Regions from separate parts of the Homo sapiens genome. Here regions 1, 3, 4 and 5 are each reported to be linked to region 2. The links are microRNA targets in miRTarBase. Many come from high-throughput screens and were not tested one by one. Region 2 holds a microRNA gene; each other region holds the end of a gene's coding sequence.
What was found. Region 2 holds the annotated microRNA hsa-miR-6790-3p (CGACCUCGGCGACCCCUCACU, at 3,152-3,172, shown strand). A microRNA usually pairs through its seed, bases 2 to 8, with sites in the 3' UTR of a target mRNA and lowers its output. Matches are read on the target gene's strand: a 7mer-m8 pairs with bases 2 to 8, a 7mer-A1 pairs with bases 2 to 7 and ends in A, and an 8mer does both.

Region 1: miRTarBase lists HM13 as a target of hsa-miR-6790-3p. The part of its 3' UTR that is shown has no 7-base or 8-base seed match.
Region 3: the mRNA of KICS2 is a reported target of hsa-miR-6790-3p. Seed matches in the 3' UTR shown: 7mer-A1 at 1,979-1,985.
Region 4: miRTarBase lists GAN as a target of hsa-miR-6790-3p. The part of its 3' UTR that is shown has no 7-base or 8-base seed match.
Region 5: the mRNA of DCUN1D2 is a reported target of hsa-miR-6790-3p. Seed matches in the 3' UTR shown: 7mer-A1 at 1,468-1,474.

The regions. Positions count from the first base shown.
Region 1 is chr20:31,568,532-31,572,531 of GRCh38, reverse strand. It overlaps HM13 (histocompatibility minor 13), which reads right to left. Exons shown (of 13, transcript NM_178581.3): 13 at 2,989-3,412. The coding sequence ends at 3,313. All of the region lies in intron 2 of HM13-AS1 (HM13 antisense RNA 1), which reads left to right. Among named protein-coding and RNA genes, the nearest start is that of HM13-AS1, 2.7 kb to the left of the region's middle. RefSeq lists a silencer at 2,632-2,926.
Region 2 is chr19:6,391,700-6,396,096 of GRCh38, reverse strand. It overlaps MIR6790 (microRNA 6790), which reads left to right and starts at 3,114; the gene lies at 3,114-3,176. GTF2F1 (general transcription factor IIF subunit 1) reads left to right here and starts at 2,933. Exons shown (of 13, transcript NM_002096.3): 1 at 2,933-3,113; 2 at 3,194-3,240; 3 at 4,123-4,195. The coding sequence starts at 3,102. It also overlaps the pseudogene LOC390877.
Region 3 is chr12:64,190,337-64,194,336 of GRCh38, reverse strand. KICS2 (KICSTOR subunit 2) reads left to right here. Exons shown (of 3, transcript NM_152440.5): 3 at 1-3,257. The coding sequence ends at 495. Among named protein-coding and RNA genes, the nearest start is that of KICS2, 30 kb to the left of the region's middle. RefSeq lists an enhancer at 1-207.
Region 4 is chr16:81,377,119-81,381,118 of GRCh38, reverse strand. GAN (gigaxonin) reads right to left here. Exons shown (of 11, transcript NM_022041.4): 10 at 3,791-3,900; 11 at 1-3,704. The coding sequence ends at 3,523. Among named protein-coding and RNA genes, the nearest start is that of MIR4720, 5.9 kb to the left of the region's middle.
Region 5 is chr13:113,454,581-113,458,580 of GRCh38, reverse strand. DCUN1D2 (defective in cullin neddylation 1 domain containing 2) reads left to right here. Exons shown (of 7, transcript NM_001014283.2): 7 at 473-2,762. The coding sequence ends at 552. Among named protein-coding and RNA genes, the nearest start is that of ADPRHL1, 3.1 kb to the right of the region's middle. RefSeq lists an enhancer at 1,633-2,563.

The DNA.
Region 1 (4,000 bases), not on the chromosome of region 2:
CCCTTCTCCAATGCTGCCCCCAAAAGGAACCAGGGATCCATTATCCTGATCATGTCAAACGGCACCACGGTGAATACGAGTCTTGGAAGCCAGACACTCTGGGTTCACATGCCCCCTGGGCCCGCCCTTACGGTCTCTGCCTCAGTTTCCCCATCGTAAGAATGATGTAGGTACCTCAAAGTGTTGTTACAACGATTAAGTAAATCTTAAGATACATTTGAAACTTGAACACGGGTTTCAATTGTGCAGGTGCACTTAAACGTGGACTTTTTTTCTACCTCTGCCACCCCTGAGACACCAAGACCAACCCCCTCCTCTTCCTCAACACAGAGACCAGGATGAAGATCTTTATTTATGATGATCCACTTTCACTGAATAATTTTTTTTTTTTTGAGACGGAGTCTCACTCTGTCCCCCAGGCTGGAGTGCGGTGGTGCAATCTTGGCTCACTGCAACCTCCGCCTCTTGGGTTCAAGTGATTCTCCCACCTCAGCCTCCTGAGTAGCTGGGACTACAGTCGCCTGCCACCATGCCAGGCTAATTTTTGTATTTTTAGTAGAGTCGGGGTTTCACCATATTGGCCAGGCTGGTCTCGAACTCCTGACTTTGTGATCCGCCTGCCTCTCTCGGCTTACTGCAAGCTCTGCCTCCCGGGTTCAGGCCATTCTCCTGCCTCAGCCTCCCGAGTAGCTGAGACTACAGGCGCCTGCCATCATGCCCGGCTAATTTTTTGTATTTTTAGTAGAAACGGGGGTTTCACCATGTTAGCCAGGATGGTCTCGATCTCCTGACCTCCTGATCTGCCCATCTTGGCCTCCCAAAATGCTGGGATTACAGGCATGAGCCACCATGCCTGGCTCTTAGGATTTTCTTAATTACATTTTCTCTAGCTTACTCTATGGTAGACAGTGTAGTACGTATAACATACAAGATGTTTTGACTGTTTATGTTATCAGGTAAGGCTTCTGGTCAACAGCAGACTATTAGTTGTTTTGCGGGACTGAAAAGTTATACAGATTTTCGACCATGATGGGTTGGTGCCCCTAATCCCTGTGTTGTTCAAGGGTCAGTTGCACTAGCATAATGCTAGTCACGTGAAATACAGTCAGTGCACACTGGGGTCTCAGCAGGGCTGGTTTTCCCCTTGGAACCCTCTCTCTTGTCGCAGTCATGGGAGACTGAGGCACAGAAACAGAATCTAATAAAGCAGGGTAGAACTTGGGTTCTAGAGCAGTTTCCTAATAATCCACCCCAAACCAGGTGAGGCTGGCATCTAGCCCACTCGGGGCCCTGCCCAACCACCCACACCCCCTCCCCAGCATGCAGGCCCAATCCTTGCCCGGCCTGGTGCCATTTTTCCATGGGACTCTGATGGTGGCGGTTCACATCTGGAGTCTAGACTCGCAGGCTCTGCGGGCCAGGCCTACCGCCTGGGCTGGGCCACCACTGCCCGCTGTTTGCTCAGCTGAAGCTGGTTAATTGGAATTACAGTGGCCTCTGCGGTGCCGGCTGGCCGGGCGGGCCCTAGTCCGCTGCTCCGGAGGTCTGTGGAACATCTGGCTGGACCAGGACAGTCATTAGGTGGCAGGCGCTCGGCGCCACTGCCACCTCAGCCTCTGCCGGGGGCTGGTGGTGACTCAATAAGGCCTTTGTGCGCCCTGGGCCGCAGAGCCAACCATGCTATGTGCCTGGGCCGCCTGCCCCATCTGCCTCAGAGGGGCCTTGTTCCAGGACCACATGGCCTCAGAGTTGGCTGGAGTGGGTAGAGATTCCAGAAGCCCCTGAAAGGGAACCCCCCTCCCTGAAAGGAAGAAGCCTTTTGAAATTTTCTACCCCTTTTCCTTCCTATAGAACCCTGGAGCCAGTAAAATTGGGTGGCTGGGGCTCAGGGATGCCCAGCACACCAGCCAGTGACTTGGTCCCAGGGGTCTGGGGAGGAGCTGCGGTCCTTAGGAACCTGGAATTGTTTGGCTTGGCTAAGGTCAAATCGATGTCCATGGGCAAGCTGCCTCAATTCCCTCATCTGCACAGCGGAGCGAATAATAGCACATACAGCCCAAGACTCAGAAGGAAGTGAAATCCTATATCAAGGTGCTTAGTGCATGTCAATACCTAGTGAGGGTATTACAGTCATACTCCTGAGTCTCTGGTCATGATTGTCCTTTGGCCACTTCCAAACTGGAAGCCACTGTTATTTTCAGCCTTTGAACCTGAAGCTTGGGCAAGGGAGAGCCCCGGGTCTGTCAGTATGGTGGCCACCCGCTCCTGTCTGTTTCCCCACTCAGTGACCTCATACCAGGTGGGTGGATGAGGGTTGTGGCCACCGTTTGCCTGGTTTGGGGTGGTGCCCGGTCGGTCTCCTGCTGGCCGGGGCTGCTGTCTTCAGCAAACTTTAGGGAAACCCGGGCGCTGAGATTTCAGCTCTTAGGCCCCAGAAGGCCTCTAAGAATCACTAGCTCAGTCCTTCCCCACCCCAGCCTCTAGAGGTCCTGGCCCTTGTGCCATGACTGGCCCCACAGTAGTCATTTTGGGAAGAAACCCAGGAATGGGCAGAATGGGAGACAAAGCCTTGATCTTCAGGGCAACCTAGAGTCTGAGCCCTCATCAGCCGAAGCCATATGGGCACAGGGACCAGGGAGGCTGGCAGGTTCTACAGTTACTGCTTCCCTTGTGAGTCAGGTCAGCCCTGGGTACTCCCCACCACTCTCACCATGGTGAGTGGGAGACTCTCATCTGCCAACACCCTTGCTGCCCCCAAGTATTTCGAGGAAGGTGGTGAGAAAAGTGCTAGCTGGTGAGAGAGGGCTCGTGGGCCCCCTCTACTGGCTAAAAGGTGTTTTACGGGTGCAGGGCTGGCCAGGCACTGGGGTGGGCACCCTTAAGGGGCTTGCAGAAAAGATTTTGGGTGGGCAGGTGAGACCTAGAAAACCCAGGGCAAGACACTGGGTGCTTAAACAGAGAATCTTCCAGGAGCACAGTGGCCCGCCCTGGCCATGGGATGAGTTTTTAATGTGAGGCAAAATCAGTCCACAATACAAAATCTAAAAATCACACCCACTTTTCCCACCTGGCTCCCGGGGAGGGGGGAAGCTGGGGGTTTCTTTTGCCTGCAGGGTGTGGGGAGGAGCAGAGGAGGGCCAAGAAAGGGAGAAGGAAACAGAGGCCACAGAGGCCTGGCTGGAGGTATCCTGCTGCCCCCTGCCCTGTCCTGGAGCTGCCCTTGGCCTCCTGTGCCCTCTACCGGTGCACGCCTGTGTGGGCCCAGCCCCCATCTGTCTGGTCTGGCCCTGAGAGGCTCGGGCACCAGCTGCATCATTTCTCTTTCTTCTCCAGCCCCTTCGATGCTGATGCCTCTGTTCCCTCTTTGGATTCTGTCACTGCCGCTGGATCCTTAGGATTTGACTCCTCATAACTGACCAAAAAAAAAAAAACAACAATAAAAATTCATTTAGAGGAGAGGGTGAGCAGAACCTTGGTTGTCCCCTTCCCCCACCCCCATCCTAGGAAAGCGCCTGGTCACATGCAGAGCGTCAGCCCTGTGTCCACTGCCCAGCACCTAACAGCGCCTGGCCCCAGCCCTACCACATGCCCTCCTCAGGCAGGCTGCTCTGCTTTCTCTGAGCCTGGGGGTACCAGGAGGCAGCAAGGGCAGCAGCCAATGGAAGAGAGGTTGGGCCTGGGCTTGTGTGGGCTGATTTCAAGCTTCCTGAACCTTCTGCTGTAGCGTGGAAAAAGGGGTGGCCATGACAAGGCTACAAGAGATGGAGATAGGCTGCCTCCCAGGGCACACAGCATGAATCAAACAGCTCAGCCCCAGAGGTGAGGGCACTGCTGTACTGGCAAGCGGCAAGGTGCTGCTCTGAAGACAGACACCCTGGCTTAGCTTCTTCTATGGGCTTCATTTTTCAAGCAACTGAGTTCATGCCAAAGATAATACAAATCTTTCCTCACCAGATAAACCCCGTGAGGCAGGAATGTGCCCACTTACAGATGAAGAAAG
Region 2 (4,397 bases):
GCTGGGACTACAGGCACCCGCCACCGCGCCCGGCTAATTTTCTTTGTGTTTTTAGCAGAGACGGGGTTTCACCATGTTAGCCAGGATGGTCTCGATCTCCTGACCTCATGATCTGCCCGCCTCGGCCTCCCAAAGTGCTGGGATTACAGGCGTGAGCCACCGCGCCCGGCCTCTTAGGGGTATGGTTCTGTTCTCAAGGGCATAGCCAGGCACGTTGTGTGTTTGTGCCGCTTTGGATGAAGATGTGAACTTGAGGCCAGGTGTGGTGGCTCACGCCTATAATCCCTGCACTTTGGGAGGCCGAGGCGGGTGGATCCCTTGATGTCAGGAGTTTGAGACCAGCCTGGCCAACAGGGTGAAACCCCATCACTACTAAAAATACAAAAAAAATTAGCTGGGTGTGGTGGTGCACACCTATTCGTGAGGCTGAAGCAGGAGAATCGCTTGAACCCAGGAGCCAAAGGTTGCAGTGAGCCGAGATTGTGCCACTGCACTCCAGACTGGGCAACAAAGCAAGACTCCATTTAAAAAAAAAAATGATGTGGCCAGGTGCGGTGGGCTCATGCCTAGCACTGTAATCCTAGCACTTTGGGAGGCCGAGGTGGGCAGATCACTTCAGGTCAGGAGATCGAGACCATCTTGGGTAACACGGTGAAAACCTGTCTCTATTAAAAATACAAAAAATTAGCTGGGCGTGGTGATGGGCACCTGTAGGCCTAGCTACTTGGGAGGCTGAGGAAGGAGAATGGCGTGAACCCGGGAGGCAGAGCTTGCAGTGAGCCGAGATCGTGCCACTGCACTCTAGCCTGGGCGACAGAGCGAGACTCCGTCTCAAAAAAATAAAATAAAAAAAAACAAAGACGTGAACTTGAGCAGGCCAGGCCCTTCACACACGGCATCTCCTTAAAGCATCCTGAGGACTCTATCATCCCATTTTACAGTGGAGGGAACCGAGGTTCAGTGAGAGGCAGGGACTTGCCCACGCTCCCAGTCTCATCCCATACTCCCCTTCTCTCTGTTCCAGCCCCATATCCTACTCCCCTTCCCTCTGTCCCAGCCCCAACCCATACTCCCCTTCTCTTTGTCCCAGCCCCAGGGGGCTTCAGTTCTTTGAATTTGAAACTCACTTCTCCCTTGCTGTTTCCTCTGCTTGGAAAATCCCTGCCTGCCCCAGTTCCTTCTGGCCACAACTTCCATCTGGCCTTCTCTAGCCTCCATCTAGAGCTTCCCCCCATCACTCCTTGTCTGAGACACCTATTTCCTCCACAGCAATGGCCACAGTCTGTCATGATCTTCTCTGTTTACTCGTTCTTTTTTTTTCCTTCTTTTCCTTCTTTTTTTTTTTTTTTTTTTTTTGAGACGGAGTTTCGCTCTTGTTGCCCAGACTGGAGGGCAATGGCGCGATCTCGGCTCACCACAACCTCTGCCTCCCAGGTTCAAGCGATTCTCCTGTCTCAGCCTCCCGAGTAGCTGGGATTACAGGCATGTGCTACCACGCCCGGCTAATCTTGTATTTTTAGTAGAGACGGGGTTTCTCCACGTTGGTCAGGCTGGTCTCGAACTCTCAACCTCAGGTGATCCGCCCGCCTCGGCCTCCCAAAGTGCTGGGATTACAGGCATGAGCCACCGTGCCCAGCCGTTTACTCGTTCTTGTCTCCCCCAAGCCAGACACTCCATGAGGGCAAGGACTATTTCTGCCTCCCTCATTCCTATATTCCTAGGGGTTGGCGGTTCCTGACATTTAGTGGTGGATGAGAAATAAATGAAAACAGACACATCGACGGTGTCTGTAGTTCATGGCCCAACTTTTGTGTCTTGCCCGCCTTCCCTTTGCTTAGCCAACTCCTATGCATCCCTCAGTGCCCAACTGAAACCTCCCCTCTTCTCTGAGCCCTCAGAGCCCCGCTGTGCTTCTCCTGCTCCTTCCTGGGTTGTAGATTCCCATGCTGTGACTCTGTCTCTTCCACGACACTGTAACCCTCGAGAGGACACTGTAATCCTCCGTGGGGAGCTGGTTTGACAGATTCACCTTGCGGGGCCCCGAACCCAGGAGGTGCTGGAGTATTTGCGAAGTGGAGCAATGAATGGTTGCGCCGTGAGCATGCGCAGTTGTGTTACTGCCATGATTCGGGGGATGTGTGCATGCCTGGAACGGGGTAGGGGATCCTGCATCTCCCTCCTGTTCTCGGCAGCTTCCTTCCCTTCCCCCCAGGAAGCCAGCCAGCCGCCCCCGCGACGTTACCCTTCTCCTGGGGCCTCAGAGCCCTGCCCATCTCGGGCAGCTTGGACTTGCAAAGACCCATCCGGCCAGCAGCTCTTGGGGTGGTCGCGCCCCGACCCCGCCCAGGCTCTGACCCCTCCTGGCTCGGCTCAACGTCACAAGGGTCCCCGCCCCGGTCATTTTGCGGGAATGACGGGGTCCACCCCTTCGGGGTAGGGGGAGGAAATGAACCCCAAACAGACCCATGGGGAGCCAAGCGGCGGTTCGACCCGACCCGAGTAGGCCTCGGTTGCTATGGTGACGCGGCCTTCTGGGCCCCCCAGGTCCAGAGCGGCAAGGCGCATGCGCAAAGTGCCTGGGAGCCCGCAAGGGGGATTCGTCTCCCTCTTCCCACCCAGGATGCCCCACGGTCCTTGGGTGCTGACGTCACGAGAGAGGGCGGTCCCCCATTTGATGAAGTTAACCGCGTTATATACAAGAGCGCCAGCGACAGAGGCCCGTTAGTTTATCTCAGACTCGGCCTAGGTTTGCTGAGTCTAAAAAGGGACCGCGGTGGACCTTTTGAGGTGACCATAGCCGCCGAGGAGCATAAGTGACTGCGCACTGAGGTGGCCACAGTCGCTAAGAAGGTTGCCATCGCGACGCGGCTGCTCGAGGGTTTCGCTTCCGGGTTAGGCGGCCGCAGAAGCGTAGACCGAGTAGCTTGAGCGCCTCTTCCGGTTACCTTTTCCCAGCGCCAGAGGCGCCTAGGGTTGGGGTCCTCGCTCAGGCACAGAGACCCGACACCGAGCGGCGGCTTCCCCGGGATCGAGGGACGCGCACGCCAGAGGAGACGAAAGGAACCCGGGTCGGACCAGATCGGAACCACTGACCATTGCCCATGGCGGCCCTAGTGAGTGTGGATTTGGCGGGGTTCGGGGGTTCCGACGGCGACCTCGGCGACCCCTCACTCACCGCTTCCTCTTTCCGCAGGGCCCTAGCAGCCAGAATGTCACTGAATACGTCGTTCGAGTTCCTAAGTAAGTCCCCAGCCCCATCTCCCACTCCTCTCCACCCCCCAAAAATGAAAACCTTCACGATCTTCTTAGCCAGCCATTTCTGGCCCTGTCTGTGGTTCTCCCTCCAGACCGGGAGAGACTTGGAGGGCAGGGCTGGGATTAAGCTGAGGCTTCTCTGGGGACAACACTGCTTTTTTGAACGAATGAATGAATGAGTGCATTAATACACGGTGATCCAGCCCCCTGGCCTAACCTTCGAGGAGTATATGGTCCCATGATGCCCAGGCCAGCTGTAAGGACATATTCCTCGTCCTGTTTCAAAGTGGTCAGGCTGTCTTTCCTTTCCAGGCCTTTGTACATCCTGTTCCTCTGCCATGAGTGCCTCCCCTCAACCCCTAAACTGTGACTCTGCTGGGTGAATTCTTGATGATTCTGCAAAACTCAACTCCAGTATCTTCCTCCTCCAGGAAATACTCCCTGCCTGTCCTCCCTCCTCCCCAAGGCTGAGTTCACAATAATCTCCACATCTTGGGTTCCCCCAAATCTTCGTCCCTCCATCTGCTCTTCTTCTGCCTGGGGTCAGGAGAGGATGGGTCTAGCTTCTCTGGCAGACTGGGAATCCTTGGAGTCTTCCGTATCCAGTGTTGCCAGGCAAAACAGGCTGAATGAAGCTGGGTGGGTTTGTTGAGTGAATTGAATTGAATTAATGATTCAATTGAATGGAATGATTGAATTGAATTAATGGTTCAATTGAATTGAGTGATTGAATTAAAGTAATGATTTGATTGAATTAACGATCCAGTTGGGTGGTTGATTGAATTAATGGTTCAATAGCATTGACTGATTAAATTAATGATTGAATTGCTGTATTGGATTGACACTACCTCTTCTCATCCACTCCAGGAATACAACCAAAAAATATAACATCATGGCTTTTAATGCAGCCGACAAAGTCAACTTTGCTACGTGGAATCAGGTAAGTCTCTGAGTCCTGGGGGTCAGGGGCTGGGGTGGTGAGAGAACTTGACCCTGACCTTGGTGGTTGTGATAGTTGCTTAACTGTCATAGTCACTAAGTCTTAATTTTCTCACTTTTCTCCAAGTGAAGAAAAGATAGATGACAAAGGGTTGGGTGCAGTAGTTCACACCTGTAATCCCAGCACTTTGGGAGGCTGAGGC
Region 3 (4,000 bases), not on the chromosome of region 2:
ACTGCTTCAGAAATGAAAACGTTGACAGCAAAAGCTAACCCAGACTTTTTTGGAAAGATTTCCAGCTTCATCAGAAAATATGATGCTGCCAATGTGTCCTTAATTTTTGACAACAGAGGTTCTGAGAGTTTTCAGGGTCATGGTTATCACCACCCCCATTCCTACAGAGAGGCCCCCAAGGGTGTGGACCAGTATCCAGCTGTAGTGTCTCTGCCCAGCGACAGGCCAGTCATGCACTGGCCCAATGTCATCATGATCATGACGGACCGCACATCTGATCTGAACAGCTTGGAGAAAGTGGTCCACTTCTATGATGACAAAGTTCAGAGTACCTACTTCCTAACCCGCCCGGAACCTCACTTTACCATTGTCATCATTTTTGAGTCAAAGAAATCTGAGAGAGACTCCCACTTTATTTCCTTCCTCAATGAGGTCTCACTTGCCCTTAAGAACCCCAAAGTGTTTGCAAGTCTGAAACCTGGAGCCAAAGGTTAGCAGGTGATTTGCGTGGAGGGGTTTCAAGACTAGAAACTGTTCTTAATTGCCCTAATGATCTACGGTGGTCTGTGAATAGAGTTTACATCCATTCATGCCTCTTTCAGAACTAAATTAAAGACAAATCCTCCCTGTGTTGCACACTTTATAAGCAATTAAGGCCAATTGAATTAAGTTTCCAAAGAGTAATCTAGGAAGTGGTCATGGGCTACCATGTGTCTCCATGGTACAGCAAAGTAGTTTCAGTATTTTCCCCTATTTTGCTATATTTCTTGTAGATTGAATATTTATTGGGCTTTTTTTTTTCCCATATGTTTTTCTGTTGTTCTAAACATTGTGTTCTACTGCAATTCCAAACAGCCTCTCTGTTTCCCTCCTTCTTGGAAGAGTAATAGGGATGAGATATTAAATGGCCTTTTTAGAATTAAGAACTATATGTTTTCTGTCTCATAAATTAGCAAATGAATATGGAGTTAGTAGATTTATGATTCTGATCTACAAATTAACATTTTTGATGCCAAAATTAGGGTCTTGGTAAGAAATTTCTATCAGTTATTGAAACTGAAAGTGAGTCAGATTGGTAGCATGACGTAAGGTTTTAACAGTTCAGAAGATCCTCATGGCAGCTTTAATAGCCATGGGTTCTTTTGGGGTAATGTACACACCTAACTGCATTTGTTTTGACTTCTTTAATGTTTGAATGTTTCACTCTGTTGTAAAGTCAGCATAAGCCATCATGTGGGCTTTCTTCATTCTTCAGCATATTATCCGCTTCGCTTTCTGTTTATCACTTTTCTGCTGAAATGTACATGTTTGGCTCTACTCCTTGGTTATTTTTAGGCTTAAAAGCATGCAGTCGGTTTTTCAGCCACTTTTAGATACTCATGCAACATAGCCTACTTTTATAAAATCAAAATGAAGGTCTTCATACGCTGTACTTGCTAAAAATCAACTGTGCGCTTGAAAGACCTCTTCATAGTTGAGTAATCACCTCAGTACTTAAGCACTTCTGAACTTGGGTTTCATGCCTGCCCCCCACAAATTATGTTTAGAAGCAGCACTGCATCTTAGCACATGCTGCCTTATTTCTTTCCTTCGGCAGGTGTTCATGGGAAGTAGGTGGATCAGTGAAGGCATAATGGGCTGTGGAGACCTTCACTTCTAGATTATTGATTCAAAATAAAAAGAAGCCACAAAGAGTAATTGAGTTGTTACTGGTTTGATGGTTCCTTTGAAGCTTGTGTGAAATGTAATGGTCATATTCGTCTTTTTTCCCATGATTGTGTGGAGCCACTGTTTTACTGGGTGTCCACAGCAGGTATGCCAGCAACATCAGCAGAGACCAGAGAGCCCCTCAGAGTCCATGTAGGAAGCCTGCCCACCTAGGGTGGACTGCCTGGCAGAAGAAAGAAGAACCGGCCAGGCACGGTGGCACACGCCTGTAATCCCAGTACTTTGGGAGGCTGAGACGCGTGGATCACTTGAGGTCAGGAGTTCGAGATCAGCGTGGCCAACATGGTGAAACCCCATCTCTACTAAAAATACAAAAGTTGGCCGGTTGTAGTGACGGGTGACTGTAATCCCAGTTACTCTGGAGGCTGAGGCAGGAGAATTGCTTGAACCTGGGAGGTGGAGGATGCAGTGAGCTGAGACTGTGCAGCTGCACTCCAGCCTGGGTGAAAGAGCGAGACCTGTCTCAAAAAAAAAAAAAGAAGAAGAAGAACCAAGAATCTACTGGCCTATTTTTTATTTTCTGGGAAGAACATGTGTTTTTCCTTTTTTTTTTTTTTTTTTTTTGAGACAGGGTCTTGTCTGTTTTCCAGGCTGGAGTACAGTGGCACAATCACAACTCACTGCAGCCTCAACCTCCTGGGCTCAAGTGATCCTCCCACATCAGCATCCCGAGTAGGTGGGATTACAGGCATGAGCCATCACACCTGGGTCTCACTATGTTGCTCGGGCTGGACTCAAACTCCTGGACTCACATGAGCCTCCCGCCTCGGCCTCCCAAAGCACTGGGTTTATAAGCATGTGCCACTGCACCTGGCCTCCTTTCTTTTTCTTTAAAAATGGTCATAAGCTTTGTAAAAAGCTAGTTTGCTTTAAATAGAAAGTAGTGATTTACCTCTGCATTTTATTCACTCAGGTTCTATAAAAAAAGTCTCAGCAGATTTTACAACATTGACCTTACCTAAGAAATTGAAAGCAATTGGAGCTAAAAAGTCAAATCACTTTTCCTCTCTATTGTGTTCTGCCAAGAAACTGAAAAATATTCCTTGGTATGCATGTATTTTTTTCCTCTTAGATTAAACCACCATTAGCCTTAATGACACAGTCCCCCAAATACCTAGAAGAATATATACTTCAGTGGAACCCCGAGAGAGGTGTAAGTAAAGCATATATATGTTATTTAAATAACCAGTCCTCACCTAGAACATATTTGAATTGTATATCTATTTTTAAACATAAACACAAAAAGAATTTCAAAGAACAGAAGGCAGATGTGAATATTAAGAAAATCTAAGACAATATGTATTACTGTGCAGCTGTCATAGACTGTACTGGAAGAGTTTTTGAAGATTGAATATTGATACTTAAATTATTTCTGAAGCTCTTCAATAAAGTTTTCTAATTATAAAAACTCCACATAATTTGGTTCAAGCCAAGAAACAAAGTCATTTTACTCTAAGATTTATTCTCTAAATATAGTAATGAGATCTGTAAAGTCTGTGTTTTGCTAATTAAAAGAGTAAATCTGCGTATTTTCTGCAGACTGCTTTCTTTGAATCTGTTTCTAAACCACAACTTGATAAGTTTTTATGGGTAACTGGGAATATGGTCAACACTGAGTTTTCCAAGGGTTCCATCCAGGAGTATTTCATTTTAGGATGCTGTTTGGACACAGGGTTTGTAACTTTGTTCTCTCTGGGTCCTACCTGATCTCTGGCTGTGTCATTTCAGGGAGTGTGTGAAAATAAAGCCCAGTTCTTAACCAAGGAGCCAATACCCTTGATATAATTGCTTTGGATATTTGGACATATTGGGAGAAATGTGTCCAAATACTTTTCTTTTCTTTCTTTCTTTCTTTTTTTTTTTGAAAAGGCAAGGTCTGTCGCCCAGGCTGGAGTACAGTGGCATGATCATAGCTCTCTGCAGCTTTGAACTCCTAGGCTCAACAGTCCTCTTGCCTCAGCCTCCCGAGTAGCTAGGACCATGCCTGGCTAATTTTAAAAAAATATTTTAGAGATAGGGTCGCACTATGTTGCTCAGGCTGGTCTCGAAATCCTGGGCTCAAGTGATCCTCCCTCTTTAGCTTCCCAAGTGGGAATACAGGTGTGAGCCACTGTGTCCAGCAGAAAATGTACTTTCTAGAAAGAAAATAATTGGTACTTCACTACTTTCCCAGGGAATTCCTTCAGGTGAATGTCCACCCTTTTGATCTAGAAGCAGACTCACAATTTTGTTTGTTTGGCAAATCAGCCTCTGAGCTCAACTTCCTTGTCTG
Region 4 (4,000 bases), not on the chromosome of region 2:
TGTACAAAGAATGTATTTCCTATGCATTGACTAGGGAATCCCCCCAACTCATAAATTATAAAAATGACACTTCCAAGCCATCAATGAAGGAAGTGTCATCATTAAAGTGGTAGTGCAATATAACAAAGTGTTTACAAACAAAACACCATCCAACATACCCCCAAATGCTCCTTTTTGGTTGTTATACAGTTTGAAAAAAGCCTACAGTTAGCTATCAATTCCTTACAGCAATGAAGTACTAAGCTAAACAATGCATTCAGAAATTTCTTAGGCCAAATCCTGACAGTATACCAACTACGAGTTGGTAAACACTGTTTTTAATCCTGCTGAAGAAGAGAAACGCGAACACCAAGTAAAACTTACTATAAACTACAAATATTTCAATATTTACACTCAATATGAGTTCGACACAGTAGTATAAACTGAAGGTCAACAGGCTCAAGAATTTATCTGAAGCACCAGGAGACAGTAATATATGTAGTTTAGAACTACAATTCAAAAAGTAAACACAAATACATTTATCAGGTCAAATAGCATCACACACACACGTACAACTCACTCATTCATCTCTCACACTTTTTCTATTCACAGGATATAAGCACTATCAAAAACAAAACAAAAAACACTTTCAATAAACACTTAAATCTTTGAAAAATCTAAATTTGGATATGCTAAACAAAGAAACAAACTACCTATTTTAGACTGCAGCCTAGGAGAGGTTCTTTAAATATTTACTTATTCTAACCTGAGACAACTTTCCTTCTGAAAATAAATTGCACTTCCCCCAAAGATATTTGTATTTAAAATTTAAGACCTATCCTGAGCCACCAATTCCAACACACACCTGGTAAAAGTGCCTTATCAAGAAAGAAGTATCAAAAAGTTATCAAGAAATGATGTTTCAAGGCATAAGTGGAATGTTAAAACACAAACCTGCATGAAATGAGTCAACATTTATTTTACAATACTGAAATAACTGTAATTTACAAAAGAGTCATGATTAATGTTGGAGCATAGTAAAATTAAATACATCCCTATACTTCAACACAATATTTTAATATTTATATATAGTAAAATAACAGTTTGGCACTTAGCAGCTTTGTTGGTTATTGCATCCCATATTATGTGGCAAATTTATTTTATAAAACATTATCTAATTTCTGCAGTTATAGAGTCAATGAACTGAAATTAAAAAAAAAAAACACTATTTTTATAAAATGAATTTACCAAGTCATGCAGGTACTGATAATATTGCAAGAGGAACACATTCACTCCTAAATAATGAACTGTCTCCTTGGAGAGGCCTGGTGTAGACTGGAAAAAAAACTTTAAATATCAGAAATTAAAAAAGGAGAATTGCTGACGATCGTGGCTTTAACTGGATGTCAGTTACTGTTTTAATGTTCCCCAATTACAGCTGCTGAATGCCAAGGTACTGTTCTGTACAGGACATTTCACCAAAGCAAATTTAGTTTTTCAGCTATTTCCTTCCTCTAAAACTAATATCTAGTTGTAAAAAGAAAAATCTTCCTTTCTTTGCAGAGGCCACATAGTTTGCTTTCATTAAAAAGATCTCCACACTGTCACTACGAAAATGTGCAGACAACAGCTGACTGGTACACAAAACAATTCTGAATTTGGTTTTGACTGACATATTAAACATGATTGAATTACATGACTGTGCGGCACATCTGGCCTGGTGCCTCTGGCATATAAGATAAAAACCTTACACCTTCTCTTATCAGGTATCTTCTGGCTAAAATGGAGAGTTAATGTACCACACTCAACACTCTCTAGAACCCCATAGGCACAGCATCTTTCAGCAACTTTTGACGCATTGTACTGACTTCCAGCAGGTATAAGAAAAAAAATCACAGGTCACCCTTTTTTATGTCTATGGGTGGGAGAACGTAAGTGATGTTTTTCATATGCATGTTAATTGCATATAAACGTTCCATACAGGAAGTTTCTAGAAGAAATTCCTGTTCTCGACTTAAAACCAAAGGATACCTTTATACATGTGTTAATAAGACAAAATGCTGCTTCTTACAGCCATATTCCAAAAGGAAAAAAAAAACCTTTTTTTTAGAAAACAATTAAAAATGAAGTACTGTATATTAAATTGATTAGAAATTTGACATTGCATAAAATTCAATTTAGGAAGGAATCAAGCACTTTGAAGTCCCCGATTTCACACTAGGGTGGTGTAATTCAAGTGGAAAACAAAATATCTTACAAGATACGTTCCACGAACGAAAGACATTTTTCCCCCAATGAGAAGTGGGGTAAAGTGGGTTGAGGTGAGAATGAGAGATAGGAAAGGAGGGAAGGAGGAAAAGATTAATTTGCTCTACTATGAACAGAATGAAATTAAGTTGAGGTAGTTTATTCTACCAGCCAAACTTTACTCGTAACATAATTTGTCTAAAACTCTCACTAGTGAATGCCACTGGGAAACTTCTATTACAAAGACTAGATTCTTAACACAGATTCGCATTCTAAGACAAGTTTTCAAACCCTAAACAGTAGTAAACAAGACTTTGTGTGCTTTCAGACAGGTTATATGAAAAAGTTTCTGATCCCTATGTATTTTGTCTGGATAGCTTTTTTGTTTTTGCTTTTTTAGCCACAGCAGACCTTTATTATTTGTCTGACTCAGGTCTTTCTTTTATAAAATCTCCTACTCACTAATATCCTCATACTTAGAAAATGGTTTTGCTCATTGAGAAGGCAGAATGGCACTGCAGGAGACCCTTCCCGGCTCCACAGGTACTACCCCAGAAAGGATGCGTGACGTGTCTTGATCTAAGTCAACACAGAAGCGAGCAACTTCTTTCAGTTCACATGAGGGCTGCAACCTGACTCATCAATTTACTGAATCTTTACATTACTAAGATAAAGTTACAAAAGAGCAATTTTATCTTCATTTCAATTCATCATGATATAGTTTTAAAAAGATTCTTAGGACAGAGTACTAGGAATAAATGGAGACTAACTGGCATACAGTCCAATCTAACATTTTAGGCACAAACCTTAATTTGTTGGGCAGGGTTAGGCATAATATATCCTTCCAAGTGCAGTGGAAAAGCAGTCTTGGCATGTTTGGATATGTTGATTTGCATATACGGATTTTGTTTGTTACCAAAGCTACGTATTTGAATACAGCAGTCAGACATGAGTTCCCTTCAGGGAAAATGCACCTTAGTATTTTAACTTTGATATTTTACATGATAGCAATTCCCACTCCCTTTTCCTTTTGATATTTACTAGCCTCCCTAGCCTCCAACATCTACAGCCACATTTAACTGGAGGAACTCACTCCTCCCAGGTAGTTTTTCAACAGTTACGTGTTCTCCCAAACAAGAGCTAAAGCTCAAGTTTGTAAGCATCATAAAACCACCAAAGAGTTACCATACCAAAGCCCAGCACAGAGTGAGTTTCAGCTGCCATCTCTGCTCTCCCTTTCGGAGCTATGTTATGGTGCTCTTGGGTCAGGATCTCGCACTCTGCTCTGCTTCCTCCTCAAGGGGAATGAACACGAATACGGAATAAGCCTTGCTGAAGCTGCAGGCGGAAAAGCTTGCAATTCGCAATGCGTAAGGCTGCACATCCTGTACGGCGAAGGTCGGATGGAAGGAGTGGTTTAGTGTGGTGCCAGGTTCCTGTGCTTCTTTTAAACTCACGCACGTAGTCGTAATTGGTACCTAAGCCACAGAAATAAGCAAGGGTGAGAAAATGTACCCAGAATCACCAGGAAACAGTTCCAAGAAAATCACTGTAACACTCTTACCTGTATCAAGATCTCCAATAACATAAATACTGGCTCCTATAGGTACAGCTCCATAAACAAAAGAGGAACTGGCGGGGATGCATAAATTCTGGTCGTTAAGATAGATCCACCTGAAAACAAAGCCCATGCACAAAATTAAGGAAATCAAAAGGATGACAACAACATCTAGGAAGACTGACACAGCAAGCTTGGTGAGTCATCAGCAGTATC
Region 5 (4,000 bases), not on the chromosome of region 2:
GCTTCCAGGATTGAGGCAGCAGTGCAGGAGCTCAGAGGGCACTCAGGGCTGCCGGGGTGGGGAAGGGAGCAATGGGGTGGTCCCACTTGGGAAGAGCCGCAGGAGGGAGCACCCCCTGCTGGCAAGAATACCAATGACCTGAGGAACATGCCTCCTGCTCCGCGGGGGTCCATTTAGCTCCCTTCCTGAGCAGCTGGTGTGACTGCCTGGGGCACTCACCGAGCATCCGGGGCCACTGTGAGCCCACAGCCCCCTAGACATGCCAGCACACACACACCAGGGCTCCCGACCTGGCCGTGCTAGGGCGAAAGAACTGGGTAACTTGGGCTGGTTCATTCTGTGAAACACAAATGGTGTGGACCTCAAGTCATTTGGGTTCTTGAAGTGTAAATGTTGGATTGATGTGTGACTCAGTGCTTTGGAGATAAAAACGGTGCTCTAACGGGTTTTCTGTTTGCTTGCTTTCCTTTAGGAGCTTGGCCCGTTCTTATAGATGATTTTGTAGAATATGCACGGCCAGTAGTCACAGGTGGAAAACGCAGCCTTTTCTAGGCAGCAAGTTAAGCAGGAGTAAGATTATGAAATGATTTGTATCCTGCAAGGAGATTGCAGTCAGTTCCTGGGTGCATTGTCGCTGATTCCAGAAGTCATTCTTGACCAGCCATGAAACCAGAGGCGCCATCCCATTCTGCCGGAGGACAGCCAGCGGCTGCTTTGTGGACACCGCAGGAAGTTCCTCGGGACACGGCTGCTTTGGGATGTTTGGAGATTTGTCATCATAGCTTTTGCGTTAGGAAATTTCTGCATGATTTTTTAATATTTACAAAATACTAAGGTAGAGCCATAGCGCCGCCTGTGGGACCGCAGAGCATGCTGCGTAGCTCGCGCGTCAGGCGAACCAGCGTCCGGCAGCGTCCCGCCGAATGACGTTGCGGTGGCACTGGCAACACGGCATGTGTCCTCTGCAGGGCGCTGCGTTTTTATACACGTCAAAGCTGTTAAGAATGTGCCCTAAGGGAGAGGATCTTGTCGTAGAGTCTAATGTTTTTTAAAATTGGTGCCAGCAATTCACGATTTATATTTTTTGAATTACCAAATATCTAGATTTACCAGCTCTATTTTTGTTTTCATTTTCTCTAGACATTCATCTGAAAATCATTTTATGGTTCTCAATCCCCATGTAGCTTTGCATAGCAACGGCACACGTGGCACGATTCCAGCAGAGTTTATCTCACACCGTTTATATATCACTGGGCCTCTCTTACTTAAATATTATTTGACCTGCCTGAGAAGCTTCATAAAGTATGTTTTTTTAAAATATATTTTAATTACATTTAAAAAGACATTTTTCCATGAAAAACATTTATTTTATGAGTGATGAATTATAGATTTTAAAATCAAGGCCGGGCGTGGTGGCTCACACCTGTAATCCCAGCATTTTGGGAGGCCGAGGCAGGTGGATCACCTGAGGTCAGGAGTTTGAGACCAGCCTGGCCAACATGGTGAAACCCTGTCTCTACTAAAAATACAAAAATTAGCCGGGCATGGTGGCACATGCCTGTAATCCCAGCTACTCAGGAGGCTGAGGCAGGAGATTCGCTTGAACTCAGGAGACGGAGGTTACAGTGAGTCGAGATCGCGCCACTGCACTCCAGCCTGGACGACAGAGTGAGATTCTGTCTCAAAATAAATACATACATACATACAATAAAACCGAATGAGCTGGTTCTTTCCATCCTCTTGTGGTACCCGTAGTGCCCAGCATCCAGACCTTTGTGCCCCTGTGCACATTTGGAAGCTAAAATGTACATCGTTGTCTGAAAAAACCCAACCCCAAAACCTTCATCTGATTGGTGAGCTGAAGTCTGTCCTTGCACCATGTTATCATCTGTTTCTCGTGTCCGCCTGGTTGAGGAGGACCCACGAGTGCTGCCGAGGTGTGGAGGGCTGGTATTGAGTTGTGGACATCACTGTTGACCCTACCTCACGTGCCGAGACTCTCATGTCACAGGCGTGCCTTGCTGCCCCCCTGCAGCACTGTGCAGGACGTGGACCAGCTGGAGCTGCTGCCCAGCACAGAGGAGAGTCGCCGCAGATGACCTAGCTGCGGTGTGAGAGAGCATGGCCCAGACAAGCAGCTGGGTTGGCTTCTGAGAACAGGACTTACCCTGGGCTTCAGGAACATCTGATGGCTGAGGTTAGTGTGCTTGGAGGCTGCAGGACGAACTGTCGATGTTTCTTAGCAGAGATGGTCACAGAGGGCAGCAGGGACAGGACTGGAAGGGACCTGCAGCCTGCAGACCCCGCCTGGCCCCCGCTGGCTTCTGGCTGGTCCAGTGATGGGCAAGTGACAGACCTTCCCCAGGCTCTGCTTCCAGAACTCTAATGGGAAACTGGGCCTGTCTACCTTTAGAAGTCTTCGATTCTCAGAGAGCATTTGTCTAATACAATAAAAACTGGCATTAATACAAACCTCAAAAACGTGAGCGTATCTTCCAGGCTTCATGGATTCTTGACATGTAATTGTTTTGTTCAGAAAAGTTTATAGAATTCACATAATTCTGTATAAACTATGGAGATCCACAGTACTTTTTTGTTTTTGAGATTTAAAGTTCTAAGGGATTGTCAATAGATATCAAAATATTAATCATTGGACAAAGGCTTTTCCAAAAATTGTGGGTTTTTTTCTTCTGTTGTATCCATTTGAGTCCTGCATGCTGTGAAATGCTGAGAACAGAAGCATTAAATTGGTTTTTCTCGGGCGTGGTTTCCTTTCGATTCTCCTCAGCTGCAGGGATGTCTGCCTATAGGTGTCAGCATCCACGTCATTGTCCCAGGATGAGAGAACAGCCCCCAGCTAGCAACCAGCGGGCAAGCCCCTGCCCCCGTGTGTGGCCCGCCAGCCCTGGCCAGGTAACCAGGTCCTCAGGTACCTTCTGTCATTGCGTTGCCTCTCAGCGGTGCACCGTGCACCTGATGGGGTGGCTCATGTGAGGAATGAGAGATCTCACAATAGGCAGGATTTACGGGAGTGTGTCGGGGCAGGAGGTCATGTGTGCCAGCACAAACTGCTGGAAACCGTCCCTTATCGGAGGCAAACGGCCAAGCACGGGGGTCTGAGGATCATGTGCTACCTGCCGATTCACGGTGCACCTGCCAGCGTTCCGGAATCAACAACGCCAGCTCCTCTCAGTGACATTGTACATGTCATTGTGTTATTTTCGCTTGAAGTTTATATCCATTTTAGACCTCAGGCTTCTTGGGGCCAAGAATAAACTTTCTTCTGATCCTTGTTGCTGTGTCCACAGTTTCAGGTACAAAGTAGGGGCTCTGCAAATATTTGTTGGATAAACGAGCTAACCTTATCCCGTCCTGTTTGCTGAGGGAGCCAGCTAGTGCTCTTGGCAAAGGTTTCCGCCGCCTGCGAACTGAAGCGCTCAGCGAGCGGGCTGTGTTAATCCCCTCAGCAGCACACGCTTCGGCCCCACAGTGCAGTTGTGCCTAAAACAGGTGAGAGTTTGAACGAAGGGCCGCCCCTCCTGTCTGTCTTGTTTGGATAGGGACCCTGCGTGCATGCTGTTTTTTGTTTTGGAGTTTTGTTTGTTTGTTTGTTTGTTTCTGAGACAGAGTTTTGCTCTTGTTGCCCAGGCTGGAGTGCAATGGCGTGATCTCGGCTCACTGCAACCTCTGCCTCCTAGGTTCAAGTGATCCTCCTATCTCAGCCTCCCAAGTAGCTGGGATTACAGGTGCCCACCACCATGCCCGGCTAATTTTTGTATTTTTAGTAGAGACGGGGTTTCATCATATTGGTCAGGCTGGCCTCAAAATCCTGAGCTCAGGGGATCCGCCCGCCTCGGCCTCCCAAAGTGCTGGGATTACAGCCATGAGCCACCGCGCCCGGCCTGCATGCTGGTTTTGAAGTTTGTTTCTGAATCTCAGGATCATGCTAGCTGGCATGACTGTGCTGATGGCTGCCTCCACCAGCAGACAGTGGAGGGTG